Linked DNA regions of Homo sapiens. The protein of the gene in region 3 interacts with the protein of the main gene of each other region in a pairwise test. Each region holds a gene or a part of one and is shown on either strand. Other genes may lie near its edges.

What was found.
Region 1: the proteins of CRYBA2 (region 3) and FLNA interact in binary tests that used the Homo sapiens proteins (3 or more experiments, as listed by UniProt).
Region 2: the proteins of CRYBA2 (region 3) and FHL5 interact in binary tests that used the Homo sapiens proteins (3 or more experiments, as listed by UniProt).

Annotation. Positions count from the first base shown.
Region 1 is NC_000023.11:154,368,035-154,371,780, forward strand, and holds part of FLNA (filamin-A), read right to left. Parts: intron 3,328-3,746; 5' UTR 3,212-3,327; coding exon 2,839-3,211; intron 57-2,838; coding exon 1-56. UniProt on the Homo sapiens protein: Promotes orthogonal branching of actin filaments and links actin filaments to membrane glycoproteins. Anchors various transmembrane proteins to the actin cytoskeleton and serves as a scaffold for a wide range of cytoplasmic signaling proteins.
Region 2 is NC_000006.12:96,601,084-96,604,829, reverse strand, and holds part of FHL5 (four and a half LIM domains protein 5), read right to left. Parts: exon of another isoform or gene 3,678-3,746; intron 1,229-3,677; 5' UTR 1,217-1,228; coding exon 1,058-1,216; intron 81-1,057; coding exon 1-80. UniProt on the Homo sapiens protein: May be involved in the regulation of spermatogenesis. Stimulates CREM transcriptional activity in a phosphorylation-independent manner.
Region 3 is NC_000002.12:218,991,506-218,995,251, forward strand, and holds the start of CRYBA2 (beta-crystallin A2), read right to left. Parts: upstream 1,918-3,746; 5' UTR 1,672-1,917; coding exon 1,511-1,671; intron 739-1,510; coding exon 597-738; intron 1-596. UniProt on the Homo sapiens protein: Crystallins are the dominant structural components of the vertebrate eye lens.

The DNA.
Region 1 (3,746 bases), on a different chromosome or scaffold from region 3:
GGTCCAGATGAGGCCCAGGATCAGCTTCAGGTTCCCGTCCACGATGGCCTTGCTGTCTGTGAGTAGAAGAGTGGCCACGCTGGGCACACGGCTGTGCGGGAGGGGCCGATCCCAGGCTTTGGGGTCAGGGTCTGGCAGCACGGGGTAGCAGGGGCCAAGGAGGAGGTAGACACCCCCTCTTGGCCAGTGGTAGGATGTGGATGAGGCCCTCTCTGCCCAGGGTCCCAGGGGGTGTTCAGAGGTGAAGGAGACTTTGGGGTGAGGGCAGATACACACAGACACACACACACGATGCCAGCAGGGTATGATTACTGCCAGAAGCCCTGGGCCCAGAGGAAGGGCAGAGGGCAGACCCAGCCTGCAGATGGGCAGCTCTGGAGAACAGCTGGACAGTGTCCACAGCTGCCAGAGCAGGGGTCCGCCACACACCTCAGGGGCCTATGGGGAACCAGGAGGAGGAGGCTGACTCCAGCTGGCCCAGAATCCAGGGCCCATGACCTGGAGTGGGGCTGGGGCTGAGGAAGAGGAAGGTGGGTGGCCCTGGGTGGTTGGGAAATACAACTGTTGTTCCAGGGTGGGTGGGGTGAGGCAGGGGAAGTGGGGGAGTTGGGCAAACGCCCTTTGGGTGAGGGATTGTGACCCCCGCCACCACCCCCACTTCCTCTACCACCTCGAAGACTCAAGCTTGGAGTTGGGAGGCCACAGGCCTAGCCAGGGGAGGGGCCCAGAGCCCAAAGGAACCAGCAGTTGGGCCACATGGCCCTGACTCACTGGGGCCCATCGGGAGATGCCGGGGTGGCAGCAGGAGACACTGGGAACCCCCTTGCCACCCACTGCCTGACCCACTTGCCACCTAACGGGCCTCTGGGCCTCGGCAGGCTCGCCACAGGGGAAGTGGTTAGGGCGGGTCCCTGACACCCCCCATCACCATGGCAACCCTGCTGGGCTCTGGGCCCCACCCAAGGCTACTTCTGGGTCTCAGGCTCAAGGCAGGATGGCTCATCTTTAGAAGCCCTGTCAGCCTCCCCCATAATCAGACAAAATACTTCTCTGGTGAGTCAACTAGGGGGCGGGCCTATGAGGAGGGGCTGGGCTGTCCATGGCAGCTGCTTCCCAGCCCAGCAGGCAGCACCTGGAGGGCCAGGTGAGCCGCTCAGAGTGGCCTCCCCAGTTCCCAGGTTGGTCCTGGCCCCACGAGGCTGCCTTTCACTCTCCCCAAATGGCAGCAGGGAGGGGGACTCGGAGAGGACCAAGGGTGCAGGGCCAGGGAACAAGGCCAGCCAGGGCTTCCCATCAGGCCCCCACCCCAGTCCAGCCTCAGACCCCTCAACGACCCCCACACGGGGAGCAACCAGGCCCACCAGGTCCATGTTAGGCCAGCCTACTCCGTCCCCATCCCCCTCCCAAAAGAGAGAGGGAAGGACCAGGGCCCAGGGCTGGGAGACTGTCTGGCTGGATGGCCCCGCCCCATCCCACCCCCCTTTCCCCAGCCCCTGGGCCAGCCAACCCCTCCCTCCCCTAATCACTGCTGCTTTCCAACATTTTTTTGCCTTATATGGCAAAGCTCTGGGAACTAGGCCTGCTCCAGCCAGCTCACAAGGAGGAGGGGAGCTGGGAGGAGGGAGGAGACCCCCCCTAAAGAGCTGGGGTGTGGCCCGCCTCCCCACATCCGGTCGCCCCCCCTACCATCCAGGACTGAGATGACTCAGCTTGGCTAGACTGAGGCTGGGACTTGTGGGGGTGGGCCTGCCCCTCGCCTCAACTGGCATTCCAAAGAAAGAACTTTGGTTCTTGGGATCTGCCCTCTGAGTGGCTGGGGGAACCCAAGTCTTGGTCCCTCACTTTCTTGGGTTCAGCAAGGGCCATTCCAGGGCTGCAGGGTAACTGGAAGGCCTCTCAATTCTGAAGAAGAGAAGACTCATCATCCCTCTCCTCTCCCTGTTCCACATCACCCCCGAGTCACCCATTCTGGGGCCTGCCCTCTCATGCAGCCCCTATCTTGAGAACGAATTGGGCTGCTGCAGCAGGCCTGGTCAATGCCAGCCTCTCCAGTCCAGTGACACAGACACTGGGCTGGCACAATGCACGCTGGAGCATCTACCAACCAACTCCTGCGTGCTACACGCAGAAAAGCAAGGCCTACATGGAAGCAAGAGTTTGGCCCAAGATGAAGAGAAAAGTTGGCGTCCAAGTAGTCTACAAGCCAGGTCTCTCAGTCAACCACGCCCAACTCACCCCGGGTGCAGTTTTGCTAACTATGCTTCTTTCTGGCCCCCAGGTTGCCTGTGTGTGTGTGGGGGGGTAGATCTAAACTGGTGGTTGGAGCCATCTCCGATGGGCGACCCATCCTCCAGGGACACAAAGAGCCCAGAGCCCCAGACAATGGGACGCACGAGCTCCAACCCACACTTCAGAACCAACGGGCCTCTGAAGGCCAGAGGGCCCTCTCTAAACAGCTGTGGGGGGAGAGCCCGGGCCTCCTCCTCCTCGGGGACGGGGCGCAGGGCCAGGAGCCTGCCCAGTGCCCGACCCCCCAGGCCCACTCCCACCGCGAGCACAGCCGCGGAGGCGCGGCCTGCGGAGGATGTGAGTTCAGCCTGGGCGCCGGCCAGCCGGGGCGCAGCGGGCGGGGGCGCGTAGCGGTTCGCACGCCCGGCCGGCCAGCCAGCCAGCCCGCGCGCCTTTGTTCTGCAGGCCCGCGTGGAGCAGAGCAGCCGGAGGCCTCGGGAGTTGCGCTGCGGCCCGGAAGGGGGTGGTTTGGAGGGGTCCGCCCGGGGAGATGGAAGGACGCACGGAGTCCCCGCCCCCGCCCGCCCGGCGCTTCGGGGCGTCCCTCACCGATGGACACCAGTTTGATGCTCTCGCGGTCCAGGAACTCGAGCGCCACCGACACGTTCTCAAGCTGCATTTGGCGGAAAGTGGGCCGCTGGTTGTGCTTGCGGTGCATCTTCTTCTGGCTGAGCACCTCCAACAGCGCGATAAGCCGCAGCCCGTCGCTCAGGTCCGTCTGCAGGTTGGCGATGCGCTTGCTCACGCACTTCAGGTGCTCGTTGCACCAGCGCGTGAAAGTGTTCTGCTGGATCTTCTTCCACGGCGCGTCCTCCGCCAGGTCCTTCTCGGTGGCCGGCATCTCGGCGTCCCGCGTGTCGACGCCGCCGCCCGGAGCCGCGCCTGCTGCGCTCTGGCCCGCCCGAGAGTGGGAGCTACTCATTTTGAGGCGCGAGAAGCCGGGGGGGCGGTGCTGCAGCCTCGGCGAGGGGACGGCCCTTTAATTAAAGTCGCAGGCACCTAGGCGCGCGGGAGGCGAGGCAGGGAGCAGAGGTTGCGCTGCGGAGAGAGCGAGCCCTTTAAATGCGGGAGGAGGGCGGGGCCAGAGGGCGGGCCTCCTGCGGGGAGGGGCCGTGGGGTGGGGCTTCGAGGGCGCGCCTGCCCCACCCCGCCCCGCCCGTTGGAATGCCCCCACTAGGCCCCCGGGTTCGGCTGATCAGACGCGAAACCCGGGCTCCAGGGTGGGTCGCTGGGCAGTGGGGTGGGCAAGGATGCTCCCAGCCCCGCAGCCTCGCGTTGGCGCTGCAGGAAACGCGCCCTAGAGCGAGGAAAGGCTGAGCAGTGTCTGGCGCGGGACTGCTTGGCCTGCAGCCGGCGCGCCTTACAAGGGACTTTCCTTCCCCAGGGCCCCTGCGGGGGGTGGGGTGGCTCTCTTCCCTAAGTCACTTGGGCTCTGCCCCGTCCCTGCACATCCCTAC
Region 2 (3,746 bases), on a different chromosome or scaffold from region 3:
GGCTTTTCCACCAAAGAGTGATTGCATTTGGTGCACTTGAAGCATCCTTCATGCCAGTGCCGGTCTTTGTAACAAAGATCCTTTGAGACAGTAAATAAAAGTTAATTAAATGTGGTTGTGACAATACAGGCCATTTTATGAAACAAAACTGAACACTCCTGGGACTCTCATGTCAGTAGGTTGTGCTAGTAGCGTGAGGGAAAGTTGTTACTGAAACTGTTACCCATAGAGAGGAGACTCTCTGGGGTAATTAAGAGCTAGAGCCCAGGGCTTTCTTGGTGGGTCACTTAAGGCAGCTGGGAAAAAACAAATACATTCTCTGCTGTGTCTTCAAAATTTGCCTATATTCTTTTTATAAACTATAATAGAGGTTTTTCATGGAATGATTTTTAAAAATTTTAGGGTGCAATGTTCTATTACTCTTTGAGATGTAACTAAACAGACAAAAAATAACATCACCTAAGTAAAACAAAGGCAGAAAGAGGGAAGAAAGAGACAGAGAGAGAGAGAGAGAGAGAGAGAAAGAGAGAGGAAAATAATCGGAGGATGGAAGGAAGAAAAGAAGAAAGAAAGAAAGAAAGAAAGAATAAGCATGTCGGAGGAAGGGGTGGTAGGTGTGAGAGGTATCAATAGGGTTTAGTAAGAAATGAAGCTGATTTTACATCAGAAAACAGATTTTGAATCCTTTCAACTTCAATTCTTTATGCATTTATTTATACCCTTGTCATTCCAGAAATAACAAACACACCCAGAAGGTTACTGAGAGCTTGGAAACAGCAGGAAAATTCTAGCTGTGTAACTTTGGACAAATAGCTTAACCCCTTTAATCTTTAGCATTCTCAGCTACCTTAGAAGATCATGTGAGGATTAAGCATATGTTGTATTTCATAGTGCTAAGTGTAGTGGCTGGAGCTTGACTGCTGGTAACTTTTAAGATCCTTATATATCCAGTAGCAGAGAAATAGTGTTGAAAGTCAACACTAAATGAAAAGAGGCACTCCAACCCACTTGTTTGCTGTTCATAGGCAGTAATTCTGTAAATTGAGGTGAGACTTACCTTAGAATCAGATTCAATTGGTTTTTTGCATTCCTCGCAATAGTTAGAAAATACACGATCATAACATGTAACACAGTATGGACTGTCATCCTTTAGTACATATTTCTTCCCAAGAAGTGATGCTGTGCAGTATTGACAGTAAAAGTGAGCAGTTGTCATTTTGGTTTGATCCTATGAATGACAAAGTGATTAATGTATATAAAAGCAGAATTTTGTTTATAGGATAAATGATGAAACCTTAATATAATGTGAGTGAAGCATTTGAATGAACTTATATTTTCTTAAGCAAAAATCCCCCAATTTAGGAAAGTATGCTTATAGTCATGGTGACATTTGGAGTGATTTAGGAAAGATTACTCTCCCATCTTGGCAGTTCCCTGTATGTTTTGCTAAAAAAAAATGCATAAAACCTGCATCTAGATTATGAAAAACATCTTGTGTTTATCATAAGCTAATGTGGAATTCAATGAGAATATGGTATCTGTTGAAACAGGATGGTTTTACCTCAAGGATATAAACTGTTGCTAGGGCTTTTAATAACTATCATCACTTACTTTCTTGCTGGAAAATTCTAGAGGCAGATTTTGATGGAAATAACAGTCTTTTTTACTCAAATATAAATTAATAATCAGTACATTGTCATTTTCTAGTTCATTCTTTTACTCCTCAAGTCTTTACTGAATACCTAATAAGGGCTCTGCACATTTACCCTGAGGTCTTCGTGTACTACATCCCCTCCTTGGCTGTGGCTTCCACCATCCCAAATGTGCTGATGACTCCAAAATCTCTGTTTTCTGCTAGCTTTAGATATCTTCATTTAAATGTCCTTTACCAAACTGGCCAAATAAAACTCCTCAGCAGGTAGGATTCTCAGACCAAGTGCTAGGTCTTTGTGACTATTGTGAACAATTGCCCAGATGCAGAAGTGCAGATAAAATCATCAGTGGTAGAAAACAACAATGGGTTCCTTCAGGCTTTAGGGCCAAAGTAACATGTATAGAGCATAAATAATAGCAGCAGCTATTCCATTATAGCTATGGATAAAATAGCTAGAATTCATCTGCAAGGCAAAATGCATTCTGTAAGATGAATAAAAAAGCTGATATGAAACATAAAGCCAGTGATAGATAAGGACTCTGATTGTTTTGTAAATTTGGAAAGCCATTAAGAAACAATGCACAGCCTGTAGTCCCAGCTACTCGGGAGGCTGAGGCAGAAGAATGGCGTGAACCCGGGAGGCGGAGCTTGCAGTGAGCCGAGATTGTGCCACTGCACTCCAGCCTGGGCGACAGAGCCAGACTCCGTCTCAAAAAAAAAAAAAAAAAAAAAAAAAAAAAAAAAAAAAAGAAACAACGCATATAGATTTCCAGGTTTTAATTAGGCATTGAACATGAATTCTTTGTTGTTACAAAAAAAAATTAGCACTGCTTTTCCTTGGAAAATGAGATTTGTCATCTCAGGGTTTACTGGAATATATTAGGAGCTTTGAATATTTTCTAATTCTCCCCCCACATAATTTTTCTTTTAATTTTAGCAAAATCAGAGGAGCAATTAACGATAATACAACAGAGTTTTTGATACTAGTTTGTACTGACTACATTTGAACTCTTATTCTCATGCGTTTTGCCTTATTCTAGTGATGAAATTCCCAGCAGAGAGCCTTGCTGAATGCACATGATTATTAATTCTGTACATAGCAGTTTTGCTATATTGTTCTTCACTAACAAGTAGAGAAAAGGCAGAGGATTTGGAATATGTGGGTCTTTTCCCAGGAAAGAGATGAAATGCAGACTAGAAAGTTCGCAATGGAACATGGCCAAAATTATCTAAAAGGAACATTGAATTCTCCATTTGATTAATTCCACAGAAATGTTCCTTCCTAGTGAATACAAACACACTCAGAGGGTTACCGAAGGCTTGGAAACAGCAGGAAAATAGATCTAATTCCCTTGAAAGGTTTAAAAATAAAAGTTGTATTCACATTTACAGCGATCAAGTGTTTGTCACTTTATAGAAATAAAATATGTACCTTTAACTCTCTTCACTTAATATGGAAAACGTCGTTTTCATTAATATTTATTTTAGTTTTAGATGTGTATAATAGCATCATGAAACACGGCCCCTCAGGGGTTAGGAACTGCAGTCTACTGCCATTTTGTGAGGCTTTTAGTGTATTATAAAATGAATATATAAAACATATAAAACCACAAAAGGGATTACCAAATTGATAATATTTCAATTGTTTATTTTAAATGACACTTTAAACATGACAACATCAAAATACCTGTAACTTATTTAGTGATCAGATCAGAAGTCTAAATATAAGACAAGACGGTCCTTCTCCCACCCCAGTCCTAATTACATAACAGGCCTGGATCCACAGAAAATGCCTTACAATATAGACCATATTTCTTAATTTTTTGTTTTGTTTTGTTTTTTGAGACAGAGTCCTGCTCTATTGCCCAGGCTGGAGTGCTGTGGTGTGATCTCGGCTCACTGCAACCTCTACTTCCCGGGTTCAAGCCATTCTCCTGCCTCAGCCTCCTGAGTAGCTGGGACTACAGGCTCATGCCACCGTGCCTGGCTAATTTTTGTATTTTTAGTAGATATGGGATTTTACCGTGTTGGCCAGGATGGTCTCAATCTCCTGACCTCAAGATCCGCTCACCTCGGCCTCCCGAAGTGCTGG
Region 3 (3,746 bases):
ACTGCAGGGTTCTTCAGCCTCTTGGAACAGAAGAATTGGGCTGGCCTGGGCTGGGTCCTCTGCTCTCCACTTCCCAGCCCTACTAGTAACCAGGTCGGCACAAATGGAAAATGAGGTCCTCTCTTTCGGTGTATTTGATTCATTAACAACACCCTCACACACACAATAACACACACACAAACACACTGAGACTGACTCTTTTCAGTGACCCTGGGCAAGCCACTTTGTCCCTTTGAGCCCCATTTCCACACCTGTGTATGGGGCTAACAGCAGTCAACCCGACCTCACATGGCTGTGTGACGACAGAGGCACTCACTCACACGTGTGGACGATGGAATGTGGGGGAACCCTGGGCACTCAGGACTGGGATGGCCTCAGCGCTGTCCGTGGTGATGATTTCTGGGCTCCGGGCCTACGCCCACAATCCCAACTTTCTTGGAGACACCCTTCTGATTCTGAGAAATAATGCTACTACCACCCATCTCGGAGTTTGTTTACACACACCCCATGCAGGGCTTGAACAGCCTTTCTAGGTGCCATGGTGAGGCCAGGGCCTGGAGCTAGGAGGCAGGGGAGGAGAAGTGGGCTGTGCTCACCGCGCAGAGCACTGGCCGGAAGGACAGCAGCTGGTTGCTGTTGTGGCTGCTGCTGCCACTCCAGGCGCTCCAGCGAGGATAGTCTCCCTTCTCCAGAATGAACTGCTGTCCCTGGAAGTCGGGGTACTCAAAGGCCACCCAACTGGAAAAGGAGAAGAGCTGGGAGGTATCTGCCCCAGCCGCACCCTCTCTGCCCTCCCCCTTGCCGGCCATGATTGAAAAGACTGAGAAGCACAATGTTTTTCTCCAACCCCAAACCCTTCCCCTGACACCCCCATTGTATGGCAATCCAGCCCCTCTCGGAACTAAAGGTCCAAAACCTGCTGCTTTCTGGGGTTTGAGGCGCCCAGGCTTCCCCCTCAAGGACCCCAGGTTGGGAAAGAGTTTTCCTGGTTATGAAGATCTCCCGACCCAGTGCTCCTGCCTCAAGGGTTTAGGCCTTTGCATGGGGACACATTGGAGGACCCCTCCCGAATATCACAGCAGAAACTGGGACCTCAGCTGGGGCAGGGGTAGGGGGCGGCAGGGTGGGAAAAGCTGGGCTCTGGGAGACCAGGGTGGGGCCAGGGAAAGGGATTGGGTTTCTTTTGTTAAGCCAAGTGCAGAGCCTTCTAATTTTGCACAGAGAAAAACTCTGGGAAGGGTGTAAGTACACTAGAAACCCCTTCACGGTGGGGTCCCATAGGGACCCTCAAGGGGTCGCTTCTCGCCTGTGTCTCTTTAGCTAGCACAAAAATACACAGTTTCCCATGATTTATCTTGCGATGGGTGGGGAATTTTGGGGAGGCTATGGGGTTTCCCATGTTGGCAGGTCTCTCCAGGGCTCACAGGACAGGGGGCTGAGGCTCTGAGCCTAGGCCGGTGGAACCCAGCGCCCCTCAACCCAGCCCAGCCGCGGCCAGGCAATCACTCACACGCCGTTTTCCACCTTGACCGAGCGCACCCTGGGCAGGCCTCCGCGCTCGCAGACGTTCGCACAGTCGCTTAGCAGCCGACAGCGACGGCCCTGGAAGTCCTCCTCGTCCCAGAGCGTGAGGCTGGCGGGCGCCGGGCCCGGCGCGGGGGCGCTGCTCATGCCGCTGCGGACAGGAAGGGTGGCACCACGCGCTCAGCGTCTCAAGAGCCCCGTTTCGAGCCACACACAGCCTGCCCAACCTGGGTAGCGGATGAAGAACCCGGGGGCTGGACCCGGCCTAGCTCTGGACCCGGCTGCCAGGGGCTCGCAGTCTTCCCGCGCTCCCCTCCCTTCCCCACCCCAGCAGAGGGCATTCACCGGGTGGGTGAGCGCGGCACGCGAGGGAAATGGACCGGCTGCGAGGCTGCGCGCGGCCGGGCGGGCCGAGCTTTATACCTGGGCCTTGTCCCCCTGTCCGCACCCTTTCCCTCGGGGGTGGGGTCGCTGAGTCAGCAGGCAGGCTGCGGTCGGCTCTGGTCTCCGCTGGGGAGCCGAGGCCTCTCCCGCAGCCGCCGCTGTGGCCCCAGCCCGCGGGAAAGACAACAGAAAGTGCTGAGGCGCGCACCCCGCGCCCGCCGCAGCCCAGGCTGACTCCGCGCTTTCTTTCTTTCCAGCCTGAGCCAGGCAGGGCACGCCAGGCCTCGGGGCAGAACGCGCCCTCCCTGTCCCGGCCCTCGGGGACGAAGGGACCTGGCCTCCCCTGGGCCTCGGGCTAAGACCGCGCTGCTGACTCGCTGAGCGGAAGTTCTTCCCAGAGTCTAATCGCCAGCCTTCCTCGGCCCTAGTCCAGGCCTCTCTTTTGGGCGATGCTAAGGCGGAGGTAGAGAGGGCTCTGCCCAAAGGATTCGCTTCATGTGCTCAGTCCTCTTTTTCCTGGGGGATCGGTCCATCGCGGCCCTTTTCCTCCCAAGCGTGCGTTCCCAGATCCTGCGCCGCGCCCCCGGGGTGTCCTCGGGCCCGGGAAGGAGAGGAGGCGGTGGTCAGGACTCGCCACGCGGCGGCGCCGGGCGCTGGAAACGACCGCCCGAGGGCCGCGCGGTTTACTCAGTGTTTAGGCATAATAGCCACCTAGGGAGTGGCTCGCCGCGGGAGGTAGGAAGAATGTTGGGCTTTAGCTCGGCTCAACCGGTGCCGCTGCGGGTCTCCCACAAAGCTCCAGGCTCTAAGGGTTCCAGCCTCGACGTCTGCCTGAGAGTTAGCAGCTGAGGATGAAGCGCTTAGTTCAGGCCGAGTTCTCTGCTCAGGCTTTCGGGTGCGTGAACTCCATCAATTCTAACACTGACCTGCTAGGAAGATACTGTTATTGTCCTGCATTTCGCAGATGAAGAAGTGGAGGCCCAGAGGGCTTTGGAATGTGGTGCAGGGGTCACAGCTAAGAAATCTCCCAGGGCCGGGCGCAGTGGTTCACACCTGTGATCCCAGCACTTTGGGAGGCCCAGGTGGGAGGATCTCTTGAACCCAGGAATTTGAGACCAGCCTGGGCGACATGGTGAAACCCCGTCTCTGCAAAAACAAACAAAAATTAGCCGGGCGTGTTGGCATGCGCCTGTAGTCCCAGCTACCTGGGAGCCTGAGATGGGAGAATTGCTTGAGCCCAGGAGGTGGAGGTTGCAGTGAGCCGAAATCAAGCCACTGCACTCCAGTCTGGGCGACAGAGTGAGCTGGGAAAAGGCGGCGGTGGGGGTGGGGGTGGGGGGTGTAGAGAAAAGGGGAGGTAGAGGGGGAAGAGGAAAAGGTTGGGAGCTCCAAAAAGGTTGGGAGTCCCAAGGGGTAGCTCCAGGTAGGAAATTTCCTCACCACTTGCAGTGGAATTTTCTAACCACAGCAAATGAGACACAAAGGCTTCTTGCAAAATTGTAGGTTTTCCTTAATGGTGGTGGGTGCGGGTGGGGATATTCCAGCAGAGGTGAGAGGGGCGAGTGAGAAGGGAGCTAATATTTTGTTGCTTCCATGAGTCACATGCTTCCCTTATGGGTCCTCACAACAGTCCAGCGAGTTAGGTTTGTGTGTACGGTTATGGAAGCGGAGGGTCAAAGAGGTGCAGGGCCTTGTCCAAACTCACATGGCTAGCCAGTTTCAGAGCAAGAATCGAGCTCAGACCTTTGGAAGCCAAAGCCTGTGCTCCGCCGCTGTCCATTGAAGCTCCCGTGCCAAAAAGTGCTCACAGGCCAGCTGCGGACACCCCAGCTCCCAGA